Regions from separate parts of the Homo sapiens genome. Here region 2 is linked to region 1. Evidence: fine-mapped expression QTL. A gene starts in region 1. The other region holds a variant in brackets. All regions are shown on one strand. Distances are between the middles of the regions.

Region 1 (8,318 bases):
ATTAAATACTCTGGGGTTCTGAATTCCACAGATGAACTGGGTCCCCCACGGGTATGGCCAAGGGAACGGCCCACTCCCTAGTGGCTCCGTGTGAAATCGAGCTGCTGCTGCTCTCGCCGCAGGGCCCAGCTCACTGCCCAGACATAGGAGCACATCGCCCTGCGCACAGGCTGGGTGGGCACAGCTGTGAGGGAGGCCACCCCATGCCTCAGGCCTCCTGCACAGGCGTGGGCCTCGCCACTCTGGGTGGACAGGCTACTTTGGCCCCTCAGCCTCTGGGGACTGCTGCCCTGTTTTCAGCACCGTGTCAGGCACCATCTGGTCAGCCAGCTCCTCCAGCCCCGAGACTCCCGTGTCCTCATTCTCCTGGGCCGTTACGGTCGGCCAGTGCCCAGCCTTTGCTGGAAGGCTGTCCAGGCTGGGCTCTGGTCAGGCATCGATGTCCCCCAGGCACCTGGCCTCACCTCGCGTTGGGACAGCCTCTGCAAGATGGAACAGGAAGGGTCTGGCTTTGCCTCTGTCACCTTCTCCCGGTCCATCATGTCCTCCTGGCCAGCCCGTTCCTGGTTCCTGCGGGGAGCCCAGCCCGAAGGGGAACCGAAAGATTCTAACTTAACTCTAGTTCAGCCTCCCGGATCCTCCTGTGGAGCGGCAGGATCCCATAAAAGATACTTGGCTCAGCAACTTGCTGGCCAAGCCTCCCCACAGCGGTCCACACAGGCCAGAGGTAAACATGCCCATGCCCCACACCTGGAAGGCCTGGTGCAAGGAGGGGTGATTGTAGTGACTGAAATGGGAACTCTGGCTTTATGGCGCGGAGAGAGAAGACATGGACCCAAGAGCTGCAGGGTGGGGACAACCGACGCGCTCTTTGTCCCCTGGATGTGGTGCCACAGCCTGAATCCAATAGCACGGGCCGCTGACGCGCTGACCTGGGGCTGGGTTAGTCGCTCGTCCCCCTTGCTCTGAAATGGAGAGTGCACGTGACCACGGCCAGTCCTGGACAATCCTGCCATGCCAGAGCCACCAGCTGGAACACACGGACACAACCTCTTTTCCATCTGACTGGTACAAGGTATGTGCTTCTCCTAGCTCCAGAGGGCCTTGGGTGATGCCACCTATGGTGATCAAGGTGGCAACTACCCATGTGGCTTTGACTGAATCAGGCTTGTTCATTTTTTAAAATAGCTTTATTGATATAGACATCATGCTGTAAGACTTCTCCCGTTTAAAGTGTTCAATTCAATGGTGTTCAGTTTAGTTACAGAGTTGTGCCACTGTCACCATCATCCAGTTTAGAACTTTTTTGTTTTGTTTTGTTTTTTTGAGATGGAGTCTTGCTCTGTTGCCCAGGCTGGAGTGCAGTGACACTACCTTGGCTCACTGCAACCTCTGCCTTCCAAGTTCAAGCAATTCTCCTGCCTCAGCCTCCTGAGTAGCTGGGATTATAGGCATGTGCCACTACGCCCGGCTAATTTTTGTATTTTTAGTAGAGACGGAGTTTCACCATGTTGGACCAGGCTGGTCTCGAACACCTGACCTCAGGTGATCCACCTGCCTTGGCCTCCCAAAGTGCTGGGATTACAGGCGTGAACCACTGCGCCTGGCCCCAAGTTTAGGACATTTTCATCACCCTAAAAAGCAAATGGGGATGCCCCTCAGCAGTCCCCCCCATTACCCCTCCCTCCAGCCCCTGGTGACCGCTAATCTAGTTTCTGTCTCTGTGGATTTGCCTGTTCTGTACATTTCATAGAAATGGAACCTATTCAATGCACGGCCTTTGTGTCTGGCTTTTTTTACTGAGCATAACATTTCCAAGGCTTGTCCATTTTGTAATGTGTATCAGCGCTTCTTTCTTTTTTACTCCTGAATAGAGTCCATTGTATAGTCTAATACATTCTAATGTATCCATTGTTTGGATATATGACATTTTGTTTATCCATTCATGAGTTGATGGACAATTGGCTTTTTCCCTCTTTTTGGCTATTATGAATAATGTTGCTATGAACGTTCATGTCTAAGTTTTTGTGGACATTTGTCTTCATTTCTCTGAGGTGTACACCTAAGAGTGGAGTTGCTGTTTGACCTTTTGAGGAAACAACAGACTGTTTTCCAAAGTGACTGCACCATTTTCCATTCCCGCTGGCAGTGTACCAGCGTTCCCCGCTCACGTCCCCCACAACCCGCTGTGACTGTTGGGCTTTTTATTGCAGCCAGCACAGTAGGTGTGACGTCGTATCACTGAGGGGTCAGTTTGCATTTCCCTAATGATTCGTGATGCTGAGCTTATCTGACACTGATTATCTTCATTGGAGGAATGTCTGTTCAGTCCTCTCACTATCTTGGTAGTGTCCTTTCAGACATAAAAGTTTTAAATTTTGGTGAAATCCAATTTACATATGTTCTCCCTTTGTTGCTTGTGCTTTTGTGGCTACATTACTTGATGGAGGACGGGAGCTGCCCGGCCTCCTGGGTCGTTAGAAAGGAAACCTCTTGGCGGACACGGTGGTCCACTCCTGTAATTCCAGCACTTTGCGAGGCCGAGACCGGTGGATCACTTGAGGTCAGGAGTTCGAGAACAGCCTGGCCAACATGGCAAAACTCCCGACTCTACTAAAAAACTACAAATATTAGCCGGGCATGGTGGTAAGCACCCGTAGTTCCAGCTACTCAGGAGGCTGAGGCAGGAGAATCGCTTGAACCCGGGAGGCGCAAGCTATGATGAGCCGGGATGACACCACTGCACTCCAGCCTGGGTGACAGCGAGACAAGAAAGAAAGGAAAGAAGAGAAGGTGAAGGAGAAGGAAGGAAGGAAATAAACCTCTTTTCTGTCTGAGCCATTTCATTTTGGGCCTGTCTGTCCCAGAGGTTTAACTACACTAGTATAGAGCATCGTTTACTAAAGGTTTGTTGAGGTTTGTTGTTGATTTGTTTCTACTTACACGAGATGTCTTCATTTTTACCCTCGGTCTTGAAATAAAATTTTGGTGCATGTTCATTTTTGGTTTGAATTGAATTATTTTCTTGAACATAGTGAGGCAGGAGAACAGGGTCTGGAGGCCAATTCATGCTGACTCCCTAGAACTAAATCAAATGGAAACACTTCCGCTATGACAAGAAGTGTCCTCTCCATTTACACAGGGCGTACACCAAGTAACCAATGGAAACCTCTAGAGGGTATTTAACCCCCCCAAAAAATCTGTAACGGGGCTCTTGAGCCGCTATGCTCAGCCGCTCCCACAGTGTGGAGTTATTTTCGTTGTCTTTTCTTGTTTCTTTTTTGAGACGAAGTCTGGCTCTATCGCCCAGGCTGGAGGGCAGTGGTGCGATCTCGGCTCACTGCAACCTCCGCCTCCCGGATTCAAGCAATTCTCCTGCGTCAGCCTCCCGAGTAGCTAAGACCACAGGCGTGCACCACCACGCCCGGCTAATTTTTGTGTTTTTAGTAGAGAGGGGGGTTTCACCATGTTGCCCAGGCTGGTCTCAAACTCCTGACGTCAGGTGATCTGCCCGCCTTGGCCTCCCAAAGTGCTGGGATTACAGGCCTGAGCCACCGCGCCCGGCCACACTTTTGTTTTCCATAAATCTCGCTTTTGTTGCTTCCTTCTTTCCGTGCTTTGTTTGTGCGTTTTGTCCAGTTCTTTGTTCAAGACGTCAAGAACCTGGACACCCTCCACCGGTCACAATAGCAGTTTCGCTTTCCATTCCATTTTATCCAGGGTGGTTTTATCTCCACCCTGGCGTTTGCAGAATCCGGGCAAGTACACAAATGGATGCTCCACAATACTTGTCTAGATATTTAAAAGGTATAAATAAAATAACTTAAATGAATGAAATTTTTATTATTTAAATCTGTTGAAGTCTTGTGTGCATGAAAATAAAACTCCTCCTAATGTGGCGTTCAGTGCCCACGCCGCTGCCACCGTGCCTGGCCCTGCGCCTGGGCGCGCTGTGTCCGCTGCTACAGACGCCGGCGGGCAGGCGGGCAGGCGGGCAGGCGGGCAGGCGGGCAGGCGGGCAGGCGGGCAGGCGGGCGGGGGGAGGCGGCGCAGAGCCCGGCAGGCGCCGCCGTTGCCTCCGCCTCCGCGCGGTCTCCCCGGGGCCAGCTGGGACCCCGAGGGCTGGGGCGGGGGCGGGGGCGCGGGCGACTGCGGCGGGGCCTGGAGGGCGCTGGTCCCAGCCCAGGGCGGGGTCCCGGGGACGCCCCTCGGCCTTAGATCCGCGAGCGGCAGCTCGGGCCTGGGGGCGGGGCCTGGCGGAGAGCGACCCGCTCACTCTGCCCGGGCTGATCTCGCGAGGGCCGCCTGGTCTCGCGGCGCTGGCCTGTGGGCGGAGCGAGCCCTGAAAGGCTATAGGCGAGGGGGCGGCTCCGCGGGGCCGGGCGAGGAGTCCAGAGAGCCATGGCCGCCCTGCGTGTCCTGCTGTCCTGCGTCCGCGGCCCGCTGAGGCCCCCGGTTCGCTGTCCCGCCTGGCGTCCCTTCGCCTCGGGTGAGTGCGCGGTGAGAGCTGGCGGCCCGAATCTCCTCCTGACTCCGACCTGCACGCCCAGACCAGATCCCAGACCGCACCCCCCTCCCACCTGACCCCGCATCCCCCACCTGACCCCAACCCACACCCCTCTTCCGCCTGACCCCGCACCCTCACCTGACCCCTACCCGCACCCCACTCCGCCTGACCCCGCACCCCCCCGCCTGACCCCGCACCCCCCCACCTGACCCCGCACCCTCCGGCCTGACCCCTACCCGCACCCCACTCCGCCTGACCCCGCACCCCCCCACCTGACCCCGCACCCCCCGGCCTGACCCCGCACCCCTCTTCCGTCCGATCCCGCATCCCCAGGGCCTGACTCCGCACTCTCCTGCCTGACCCCGCACCTACCACCTGACCCCGACCCGCAGCCCCTGCCTGGCTCAGGCCTGCAACACCCCCCTCGCCTAGTGCTGCACCCCCCACCTGACCCGCACCCACAGCCTGACCCAGGCTTAACACCCCCCCACCACCCGCCACCCCGCACCGACACCACCCACCTGACCCTGGCCCGCACCCCCACCCCCTGCCTGGCTCTGCAGGAGGCCACTCTCACCAGGCCACGTCCTGCGGGAGGCCCGGCGGCTGGCTGGTACTGCCCCAGTGCCAAGACCTCTGGCCAACTGGGCGCAGGGTGGGGGTTGTAAAAATCCGGGGTGTTCCCTCGGCTCTAAGAGCAGGCGTAGCTCCTGTGCAGCCGGCCAGCCCGAGAACAGGAGATGCAGGTGCATTTTGTCCTGGGTGCCTCCTGACCAGGGCCACCCCTCAGAGGGTCCTAAGGGAAAAGCTGACACCTCCTCCCCAGCCACAGGGGGCTGCCCTCTTCCTCCCTCGTGGCTCACCCGGGGCCCCACTCATGAGCGGCCATCACCGGCTCTAGTATCTGAGGAATCTTGGGCCATGCCTTGGGCTGGGGAAGAACTCTTGCTTCCTCTTCCTCCCTCACCCTGTGTAGCAGTGGACCACTGAGTTGTGTTGGTTTCATCTCCATGCTCTCCTTGGCCTTCGGCTTCTCCACCCTGACAGCAGCCCTTTCCTGGATCTTGCATGGCGGGCACTGCTGCCAGACACTTCACCTGTGATCTTCCAGTTACCCCTAGAAACCCACAGGATACGGCGGGGCACAGTGGCTAATGCCTATAATCCCAGCACTTTGGGAGGCTGAGGCAGGTGGATCACCTGAGGTCATCAAGACCACCTTGGCCAACATGGTGAAACCCCATGTCTACTAAAAATACAAAAATTAGCCAGGTGTGGTGGTGTGTGACCGTAGTCCCAGCTACTCGGGAGGCTGAGGCAGGAGAATCACCTGAACCCTGTAGGCAGAGGTCGCAGTGAGCCAAGATTGCGCCACTGCACTCCAGCCTGGGCAATAGAGTGAGACTCGGTCTCCAAAAAAAAGAAACCCATAGCACAGGGACTATGATCCCTGCTCTGCCACTAACGGAGGCAAGCATCCAACACACAGGCTACCTTTGTCTTTTCAGGTTCACCTTCTCACCCCTGGAACGCCATTGTCCTTTGTCTCCTTCCCACCTTGCTGTCCACCCAGCAGGCGCAGGTCCTGTGCAGCAGGCCAACCGAGAAGCGCCTGCGTCTCCCATTTTCGGGCTGGCCTGCTGCTCCGGACCTGTGCCTGATCTTAATGCTGCAGGAACACCCAGGATTTTCACATCCCCCACCCTGCGTCCAGTTGGCCAGAGGTCTTGGCACTGGGGCGGTACCAAGTGCAAGGAGCTGCCTTACACCCCCTCACCTGTTGGCATTTGTTGAAAGAAGGTGTTTCCTGGTGCCTTGTCTCAGCAGAGTCCAGGGCTGTCTCCAGAGTGGTGTCCTGGGAAGAGCTGACCAAGGCATATTAGGAGAAGGAAAGCGGCTGTGGGCTGTGTTCTGTGCTGGGGATTTTTCTTTTTTTCTTTTCTTTTTTTTTGAGACGGAGTCTCACTCTGTCACCCAGGCTGGAGTGCAGTGGCATGATCTCAGCTCACTGCAAGCTCCACCTCCTGGGTTCATGCCACTCTCCTGCCTCAGCCTCCCCAGTAGCTGGGACTACAGGCGCCCGCCACAACACCCGACTAATTTTTTGTATTTTAGGTAGAGACGGCGTTTCACCGTGTTAGCCAGGATGGTCTCGATCTCCTGACCTTGTGATTCGACCGCTTCGGCCTCCCAAATTGCTGGGATTACAGGCGTGAGCCACCGCGCCCGGCCCGGGGATTTTCTTTAGGACATGTTCAAACACATGTGAAAGCAGAGAGAATGGTACCAAGGCTACCATCTATCCTTGTGGCTGAGAGCTACACCTGGAGCCACTGAGGACTCGGCAGGGAGCCCTCAGAGGGCCTCTTGGGGTCACACTGTATCCACCGATGGGGCCACATCCCTTCCCCCACTCTCCCCAGTTTGATACCTGTGTGAATAGATACCCCTTTTTGCCTTCTTGCTCCAGGTGCTAACTTTGAGTACATCATCGCAGAAAAAAGAGGGAAGAATAACACCGTGGGGTTGATCCAACTGAACCGCCCCAAGGCCCTCAATGCACTTTGCGATGGCCTGATTGACGAGCTCAACCAGGCCCTGAAGACCTTCGAGGAGGACCCGGCCGTGGGGGCCATTGTCCTCACCGGCGGGGATAAGGCCTTTGCAGGTACGCGCGGCAGCAGAGGCCTTTGTGTCTGGGCAGATGTGGGAGGCACGTATGGCCTTGGGAGAAGCCTCCAGACAGATTTGCGCCTCTGTGATGGCAGAGGCATGCGACTGGGGACTTCCTCAAATATCGAGTGAAGACGGTCATGGGAACGGCTTGCATGAGCAGCTTTGTGTATGCCAGAGAGCTGCATGTGCTCCACCAGCAAAACAGCTTCTTCAAAGGGGTTTAGGTCCTTGGCAGTCAGGCTTTGTGTGTGTCAAGGGCTTATGCCCTGACAAATATGCCTAGCCTCTGTGGGCGCCTCCCTTGCACCTGCTGCCTGCCTCAGGGCCCCTCTGCGTGACTTCTGTTCTAGCTGGCATTACAGCGTCCCTACAGCTGTCCACGTGGCCTGGTGTCAGCCGTGCCCAGCAACCCCACTGCCTGTGTCTGGTGTGCTCTGAAGTTCCTTGTTGGTCTGAGAGATATAGGATGGGTGGGCTCTCTGCTCTCTGGTAACTGGAACCTCCTTTCCACTCCTGCTAGCTGGAGCTGATATCAAGGAAATGCAGAACCTGAGTTTCCAGGACTGTTACTCCAGCAAGTTCTTGAAGCACTGGGACCACCTCACCCAGGTCAAGAAGCCAGTCATCGCTGCTGTCAATGGCTATGCCGTGAGTGTTGCTGCCAAGAGTCTCCTCCTCTCGTGGTTGAAGGAACCGTGCTGTGCATACACAGCATAACAGATTTTTATTTTGAAGAGGCCTTTAGTTCCCAGGCCAGCAGCCTCCTTTCCTGCCTCATGGTGCTAAAGAGCCAGGAACTGTGTGGAGAGGACACCTCCTGGCATCTGCTTTTTTCGTGGCTGTTCACCTGACAGCTTCTCCCCAGCAAGCCTCTCTTCCAGGGTGGGGGAAGAGAGGTGTTGGCTTTGGCTACATCTATAAACTAGCTTCTTTTGCTCCCCTTGAAAGCTCTGTGTCCTGGGACTATTTGAAGTGCTGAGACTGATCTTGGCCTATAGGGAAGGCAATGTGATCATTTCATGACGCTCCCTGCCGTGTAAGCCAGGGGTCTGCGGATTGTGATCATTTCATGACGCTCCCTGCCGTGTAAGCCAGGGGTCTGCGGATTGTGATCATTTCATGACGCTCCCTGCCG
Region 2 (8,304 bases), 92 kb after region 1:
ACTGTGGAGTACAGACGCCGTGTCCACGACGCCGCCGGTCACGGAGGCCCACCTGAGGTGCCGCCACGTCTCTTGCAGGAAAGCCCTCACTCGCTACCAGATGCTCTTCAGGCACATGTTCTACTGCAAGCACGTGGAGCGGCAGCTCTGCAGCGTCTGGATCAGCAACAAAACCGCCAAGCAGCACTCGCTGCACTCCGCCCAGTGGTGCGTTCTTCCTCTGCCCCCGCATGCCCTCCTGAAGCAGCGCTCGCTGCACTCTGCCCAGTGGTGCAGCGCCCCCCTTGTGCCCTCCTGGTAGACAGCTTTCTAGGCTTCTGGAAGTGTCATCTGGAAGCGCACGTTGGTGGCTTTAGATCCATAATGCTTCATTGCTTCATTTTCCTGTCTTGGGGCTGCACGGCGCTGCCGTCCACCCCACAGGGGATGCTGGCTCTGTCCCTCAGCCCTCTCTGGAGCCTTGTGGTGACTGCACGGGCATGGAGACTGCCCAGGTCGGTGTGCAGGACACTAGCTCCTCCCGAGAGCGGACAGCCACATCTTGCTGGGACCAGAGGTGCTTTGCAGCCGGTCTGTGCCTCTAGGGTGTTGAAAAAAGGGGTCGATGGCAGAGCTTCATAAGAATTTGTCCAGTCGGGTGCAGTGGCTCATGCCTGTAATCTCAGCACTTTGGGAAGCTGAGGAGGGAGGATTGTTTGAGCCCACAAGTTCGAGACCCGCCTGGACAATGTAACAAGAGCTCATCTCTTAAAAAAAAAGAAAATTATTTTAATTAGCCGGGAATGCCTGTAGTTCCAGCAACTCAGGAGGCTGAGGTGGGAGGGTTGCTTGAGTCCAGGAGGTCAAGGCTGCAGTGAGCCAAGATCGTGCCACTGCACTGCAGTCTGAGCGACAGCAAGACCCTGTCTCTCGAAGAAAAAAAGAAATTAGAAGAAAAAGAACTCATCTTGATGATGAAGCACAAATATGCATCTGTTGTGTGGCACTTTCCTGGCGTGGGCTCCGAGGGGTCCGTCCACCAAGGAGCCCGCGTCCCAGTCTCCACCGTCCAGCTGGCTGGGGGTGTCCCTGCAGGGCACAGGTTGGTAGACGGTGACAGCTTGTGCTGGGCAGACGCAGGAGCAGCGGCCGTGAGTGTCTGGTGTGCTGGGAGGGGCGCTTGCTCTGCAGAGGAAATAGCCACGTCCAGAGAACGTCCTCCATGGCTGTCCTCCGTCCTCCGTGTCACTTGGTGGGCGCTGTCGGGGCCGCGTCCTCCATGGCTGTCCTCCGTCCTCCGTGTCACTCAGGTTTGCTGGGGCTTTCACTCTGCGGCAGCGAATGCTCAACTTCGTCCAGAATATTCAATACTACATGATGTTTGAAGTGATGGAACCGACCTGGCACATCCTGGAGAAAAACCTGAAATCCGTGAGTTTTAGCTCCACAGATAATAACGTTTGAAAGCCACTTTCCTTTCACAGGGAGACAGGAAGTGCAGGAGAGGCAGGGCGAGGGGAGAGGCAGGGAGTGCAGGAGAGGCAGGGAATGCAGGGAGACGCAGGGAGTGCAGGAGAGGCAGGGAGTGCGGGAGAGGCAGGGCGTGCGGGAGAGGCAGGGAATGCGGGAGAGGCAGGGAGTGCAGGGAGACACGGAGTGCAGGAGAGGCAGGGCAAGGGGAGAGGAAGGGATCCCCCAGGGCGGGGCTGCACCCACACTGCTGGCCACACACGGGACCCCTTGCTGCCTGCCGTCCTAGGGGGACTCTGAGCCGTCTTTGCCCCGAGGTTGTCTCTCCCACATTGCGCATCTGAGGCTGAGGGGCCTGAAGGCAGAATCTGTTGGTACCAAATTCCAGAAGCTGCCGCAGCCTCCCTTCCTGTCTTCTGCCTTAAGAAATGAAACCCCTTCGGGGTGTGCCCATCATTTTTTTAGTGGTGTTTGGAAGTTTTCCCCTAAAAGCCCAAGGCCCATTTAAGAGGTAGAAGTGCGTAAACAGGAATGCACAAAGCCAGAACTGAGCACGTGCGCATGCAGGGCCCGTCTGTCAGCCACGTCTTTCTGAGAAGGGGCTTGGCCTGTTCCCCGCAGGCCTCCAACATTGACGACGTCCTTGGCCACCACACAGGCTTCCTGGACACCTGCCTGAAGGACTGCATGCTCACCAACCCCGAGCTGCTGAAGGTCTTCTCCAAGCTCATGTCTGTGTGCGTCATGTTCACCAACTGCATGCAGGTGCGTGGGTGTGGGTAGCACCATCGGGTGGGCAGGCGCGGGTGGGCAGACCATGTCCCGACCGTGGCCGCACGCAGCCTGCTCACGTTTTCCTGCCCTTGTGTTCGTGGAGGAGCCGCTGGGATCTGAGTGTTTCCAGAACTCCTGGTCTTCCTGGCCGGGTGATTCCCTCCTGGAGCCCCTGCCCTGGCAGCGTGGGCAGGGCTGTGTTCCTCCCGAACCATCCCTCAGCCTCTGTGGTGCTGGTCTCTGTCCGGGGCCTTTGCTTATGGCCCTTGCATGCTCTTTTCCTCAGCACTTGAGCTATTTGATTCCGTTAAGGACCTGCAGGCACTAGTCACAAGCAGCTGCCGACTGGCGATGGTGCAGAACCTGCGTGTCTAGTGGCAGAAGCAGGGGTCTGAGAATGAGGCTCTCCAGGCAGTGCCATGGGGAGGGTCCGGAGGAGGGCGAGTGGGGAGGTGGAGGAGGGCATGGCCACTTCAGGGTCCCAAATAGGGAAACACCAAAATAACTGTTCTCAGGAAAATCAGCTGGTCACCGTGGAAGGTAGACCTGGGAATTCTGTCGGCACAGATAAGTCATTTCCCCTGCAGCCTCAGAGATGCTTGTGTACCCCCAGCCGCAGGCTACAACAGAGGTGCGGAGGGTGACGTGCCTGCAGGACTTGTTTTTTCTGCAAAGCATTGTGGTTGTAACTAACAGAAGCATTTCCTTGCGACTCTCCCCCCCTAGAAATTTACACAGAGCATGAAATTAGATGGCGAGCTGGGCGGGCAGACGCTGGAGCACAGCACCGTCCTGGGGCTGCCCGCAGGGGCCGAGGAGCGGGCCCGGAAGGAGCTCGCCAGGAAGGTGCGTGGCCTCCAGGTTTGGCCAGAGAGAGACGCTTCCTCCCGGCTGGGCGGCAGCCTGGGCATCCTGACGCAGGGAGAACAAACCTCCCCCCTTTTACTTCCATCTCCCCTCAGATTGAAGAAAAGACTTAAAATTAGCTTCCAAGCACAAGCACAAGAGCCTCTCACAATCTTCTCAGCTCTCTGGTCCCCACTTCAGCCAGTCGGGCTCGAGGGAACCCCCACAGATCTTCAGAGCGAGCGCTGTGCAGGGCGCCTGGGCGAGGGCAGGGGCCACACCCGCTGTCCCTGCTGAGCTCGGTCCTGAGTTAGAACCGTCAGGCTCTCAGCAGGCACGGACAGGCTGCATGTCCTCGGAGGCATGGCCCTGCGGCGCCGGCTCCGGGGTGGCATGGTGGGGTGGGCAGTCCCGTGTTCACACGCTGGAGCTGGAGCTGGCAGAGAGGAGTTGGGTTTGGAAGCGTGGGGGCCGGAGGTGAGGGACACTGAGAGGCGCCCCGACCTCCTTGCTGAGAAAGCTGCTGGGAAAGCTCGTTCATCTCACCCCAAAGGAGAGTGACCACCTCATCCCACGAGGCCTGGAGTGTTTCTCTGAGTGCTGGGTTCTCAGGAATGTTTTTTGATGTCTTTTTTACCTTGAATCTCCTGAAAACATCATGGAACCCATGTTTTCTATTTAAGAAAAGGGGAAGGGAAAGGACACCGGCCTGCTGGGAACAGTGTGGAGCCAAGAAGGCCCACGGTGGGGGTGGGCATGGCTCACGCACCCCGGCTTTCTTTCCAGCACCTGGCTGAGCAC[G/A]CAGACACTGTGCAGCTGGTGTCCGGCTTCGAGGCCACCATCAACAAGTTTGACAAGAACTTCTCAGCCCACCTGCTGGACCTCCTGGCCCGGCTGAGCATCTATAGCACCAGTGACTGTGAGCACGGCATGGCCAGCGTCATCTCCAGGTGGGTGGGCGCCACCCCGGCTCAGCCCTTCCTCAGCTCAGTCCAGCGCCTGCCCCTGCCCAGCACCGCCCTGGCTCAGCCCTTCCTCAGCTCAGTCCAGCACCTGCCCCTGCCCAACACCGCCCTGGCCCAGTGCTGTCCCTGCTCAGCCGTCCCCCAGCTCAGCCCAGCACCTGCCCCTGCCCAGCACTGCCCTGGCCCAGTGCTGCCCCGGCTCAGCCTTCCCCCAGCTCAGCCCAGCACCTGCCCCTGCCCAGCACCGCCCTGGCTCAGCCCTTCCTCAGCTCAGTCCAGCACCTGCCCCTGCCCAACACCGCCCTGGCCCAGTGCTGTCCCGGCTCAGCCTTCCCCCAGCTCAGCCCAGCGCCTGCCCCTGCCCAGCACCGCCCTGGCCCAGTGCTGCCCCGGCTCAGCCTTCCCCCAGCTCAGCCCAGCGCCTGCCCCGGCTCAGCCCTTCCTCAGCTCAGCCCAGCATCTGCCCCAGCCCAGCGCCACCCCAGCTCAGCACCTGTCCCTGCATCCAGGCCCCATCTCCCCTGCACCCTCCCCTGGTCCACCTGGTGTAGCCTCCTTCAGAAGGTGGGGCAGGTCTGTGTCCTGGTGCTAGTGCTGGTCATATGCCACTCCCTGAAGTCAGGCTAGCCCAGCTCTCCCTGGGGTGTGACATTCTGTGCAACTGGGCTGCCCCATTGGCACCCTGCGGCTGTGTGTGTCCTGTGGGGCTGATCAGGCCTGGGTCAGCTTCCCTCATGCTGCACTAACACCTAGCCTGGGGGAAAGGGCCAGGTGGCCAAACTGCCAGCCTGGAAGGGGTGGTGCCCTTGGGGGTGCTGTCCTTGGGAAGGTGCCTATTTGTGCTTTTGGACCACCCTGTGCCCTGTGCCCCCCACAAATGTTCTGATTTTCTGAGCAGGGATTTCTGAGGCCACCCTGCATTGAGAACCACTGCTTGGTTCTCCAAGCCCCTGACACCTCAGGCCCCATTGCTAGGCCCTGTTGGGGTGATGGGAGCCCCAACTTTCTGGGGCCAGGAGAGAAGAAACCTGTGTTTGTGCCTTTGAGCAGGACTGAACAGGACTGAAAACCTTCCTGTGGAAACATTAGTTAGGAGCGTGCCTCACCCTCACCCCTGCAGGGCCTCTTATGGTCTCTGTAGCTGAACACTTCCCCATGGTAGGAGCAGGGCTGCTCAGGACGGACCCGCAGAAGGAGTGTGTGCCCCAGCTCCACTGTCCTTCCTCACCCCTGCTGCCCAGCACGCACCCGCAGAAGGGGTGTGCACCCTAGCTGCACCGTCCTTCCACACCCCTGCTGCCCAGCATGCACCCGCAGAAGGGGTGTGCACCCCAGCTCCACTGTCCTTCCTCACAGGCTTGACTTCAATGGTTTCTACACGGAGCGCCTGGAGCGCCTGTCTGCAGAGAGGAGCCAGAAGGCCACCCCCCAAGTGCCTGTCCTGCGGGGGCCCCCGGCTCCTGCACCCAGGGTCGCAGTCACCGCACAGTGAGCCCTGGCTGTGACAGGAAGGAAGGGTGTGGGGTCAGCAGGGACTGGTGCAAATGGGTCCAGAATTTTCAAATCGAATGCTCTGTGTTCTGTCTTTGCAGTTTAAATATAAAGCAGGAATGATTGACTCAGCTCACTTTGTTTCTCAAGGCGCTGGGTTTCGTTTTATAGAAGCTGCCCAGGCAGGGTGGATGTCTCCCTGGATTTGCTAATCTGTTTGCTTTTTGAAATTACACTATCACCTTTTTGGGTGTTTTTGGCCTCAAAGTGGAAATACATGGTGTTTAAGCCAGGAGCAAGCAAAGATGCATGTGGGGTAAGATCCAGGCCTGGTGTCCACATCTTTCCGGGTGAGCTGGGGCCGGGCTTCCTGAGGTCTGTCGGAACCGGGACAAGCCTCTGGAAACGGTCAGGGAGTTGTGGAAACCCACCGGGCATCGGGTGTCGGGTTTGCTTTGGCCCCAGAGGCAGCCCCGTTCCTTCTCCTGAGGACTCACCCGCCTCCACGACCCTCCTCCTGCTGCTGCTCCAACTGGTCCAGGGCAGGAGGCCACAGACAGGGCCCTCAGGCACCCTGGGAGCCCACACCTCCCCCTCCGTGGGAGTGGGTCGAGGGGCAGGCTCTGCTGCTGGCTGGAAACCCCACCCCGCCCTATCCGGTACCGCCTTGTTACGTAGAACTTACTCAGCAGACTGACACCCAATCCCCCTCGGGCGATCATCTGCCCTGTCTTCCCACCTCCAGGGCTACAGTGGGCAGCACCGCCATCCCCAGTGTGACAGGGCCCTGGGAGCCTCAGGGCTGCCCGGCCAGGTTGGTCTGCTCTGGTTACATTCTGGCCAAGCTGCCCCTTCCTGCTGACCTGCATGTGTATTGTTGTCACCTTCAGCTCTCAGCACCTCGGCCCCCTTGGGCAGTGAGGAAGGGCCCTGGAGGCGAGGTTGGGAGAAAGGATAGCTAGAACAGGATCCTGCGGGGAACAAGGGTTGTGGGCAGCTCTCACCCGGGGCTGCCTCACTGAGAGCACCGCCGAGTGGGGGTGGGGGTGTCCAACTCTCCAGCCACAAACCGCTTCCTCCTTGTCTGCAGGCTGTGCAGGTCTGGCCTGTGAGTAAACACATTTATCAGCAACCCAAGCTGTCAGTCTCAGTGTTGTGCAAATGCCGGACTGGTGAGCAGAGGAGCCTGCTAGCTTTCCTGCCTGGCCCCGAGGCCCAGAAACCCCTGATCTTGTGTCCTGGGGTCTGGGAAGCCCTGGGCCTTGAGAAGTGGGGTTTGCAGGTGGTGATAGGAGGAGGGGAGGGAAGCCTCCAGGGCTGTGGGGTTCAGGCTCCCAGACCCCCCGGCACCTGCTGAAGAGGAGAGCTGTGTTCTGTGGGATTGGGTGGAACTTCCTCAGCGCGGGAGGAGCCTGTTCTGGCCCAAGCTGGTCCTGTCTTTTTAGGAATAAATCCCTGGTAGCTCAGCGTCGGCAGGGGCCTTGCTGTGCCTCTGATGTGGCCAGCGTGCCGCCTTTGCACTTTGCTGTTGAGTAACTTGCACCATGAGGTCAAGGAAGGGAAGTGTGATTGCCAGCTGGCCATTGTTCTATAATAACAGGGTCACCTGCATGAGCTCAGGCACAGGCCAGTATCCCCAGCCCTACCTGGGAGCCTCTCGGCAGCCTGGGGGACCTCGTCCTGTGCCACACAGGCAAGCGGACACACCCCCAGGCAGCAGAAGTCACCTGCGGCCCAGTGCCAGCCCTTGCTTTCTTGCTTTTCATGCCATTCACATTAGGGTAAGAATGGCTTTGAGACAAAATGTGACAGCATCACTCACGCCAGCTTAGATCCTCCGGGTTCCCTGTCCTCCCAGGATAACGTCCGAGGCCCCGGCCTCTTCTTGCCACTGCCCCTTGACCTCTGTCCTCTGCCCCTAGGCCCGTGCAGTTCCCTGACTCGCCCTGCCCTGGTGCCCTCTCTCCAGGCAGGACTCCCTCCAGCCCCTTGCTGGCCCTGCCCTGCCTCTCCCCAGGGAGGCCCTGAGGCCCCCCCCCCCCATGTGATCTGTCAGCAGCGCCCTGTGTGGTCATCTGAGCTGCCTTTCCTGCCACCACCACTGTTCCCACTCCAGGAGGGCGGCCTGGCTGTGAAAGCCCCAGGGAGGGGTCCTGGGTGGACCGTCTGGGGAGCTGTGGTGTCAGCCCAAACCTGCACCCTCGAGGCTGAGCCCACCACGGGGAATGTGGTCACCAAGGGCAAGCACGCTTGGCCGCAGGCCTGGAGACGCCGGAGCCAGGCCACGGTGGGCTGCTGCAGGCTTTGGTCCACGTCGGCCAGCGTCAGCTGCTGTCTGGGGATCTTAGGCTAGGGACGGCCCCTGCACCTGCCATCACCTGGGCTGGGACCCCCACCTAGGGCTCCCCCTCCCCACTTGGACGCCTGCGGGCCCATGCCTATCCCACTCCGGTGAGGCCTCAGCCTGGTGGAGGGGGCGCAGGCTTGGGGGGGAGGGTGGCAGAGCTTCCCACAGGGCTGAACCTATGCCCACAAAGCCATGACTTGCCCCTGCCTGAGGCTTTCTGTTCCCCAGGAAATCAGAGACCCCCTCTCCTGAAACCGCCAGGCGGCCCTCACAAGTCCCTTCCCCTCCAGGACCTGCCTGGCGCCACCTCCTTCCAGCCGCCGGGTCCTTCGAGAGGCCCCCTCTCGGGGCTCTGGCCGGACTTGGGACAGGCTGTGCCTGAGTTTCCTCACCTGTGCAAGGGAGGATGCTGGATTGTGGGGAGAGGGGAAA

The links. PIP is the estimated chance that this variant, and not a neighbour inherited with it, causes the effect.
Region 2: its variant is fine-mapped to the expression of ECHS1 in whole blood (INTERVAL, PIP 0.96).

Annotation. Positions count from the first base shown.
Region 1 is chr10:133,369,417-133,377,734 of GRCh38, reverse strand. It overlaps ECHS1 (enoyl-CoA hydratase, short chain 1), which reads left to right and starts at 4,381. Exons shown (of 8, transcript NM_004092.4): 1 at 4,381-4,489; 2 at 6,978-7,175; 3 at 7,704-7,831. The coding sequence starts at 4,402. MIR3944 (microRNA 3944) reads left to right here and starts at 6,072; the gene lies at 6,072-6,179. It overlaps LOC124902563 (a long non-coding RNA gene), which reads left to right. Exons shown (of 2, transcript XR_007062395.1): 1 at 1-1,075; 2 at 2,529-2,999. RefSeq lists an enhancer at 3,638-3,727 and a silencer at 4,109-4,618.
Region 2 is chr10:133,276,988-133,285,291 of GRCh38, reverse strand. It overlaps TUBGCP2 (tubulin gamma complex component 2), which reads left to right. Exons shown (of 18, transcript NM_006659.4): 13 at 79-207; 14 at 1,290-1,410; 15 at 2,071-2,214; 16 at 2,950-3,069; 17 at 3,856-4,019; 18 at 5,391-6,657. The coding sequence ends at 5,526. Among named protein-coding and RNA genes, the nearest start is that of ADAM8, 4.3 kb to the right of the region's middle. RefSeq lists enhancers at 6,400-6,479, 6,970-7,019 and a silencer at 8,175-8,304. The variant G/A (reference allele first, on the strand shown) is at 3,871.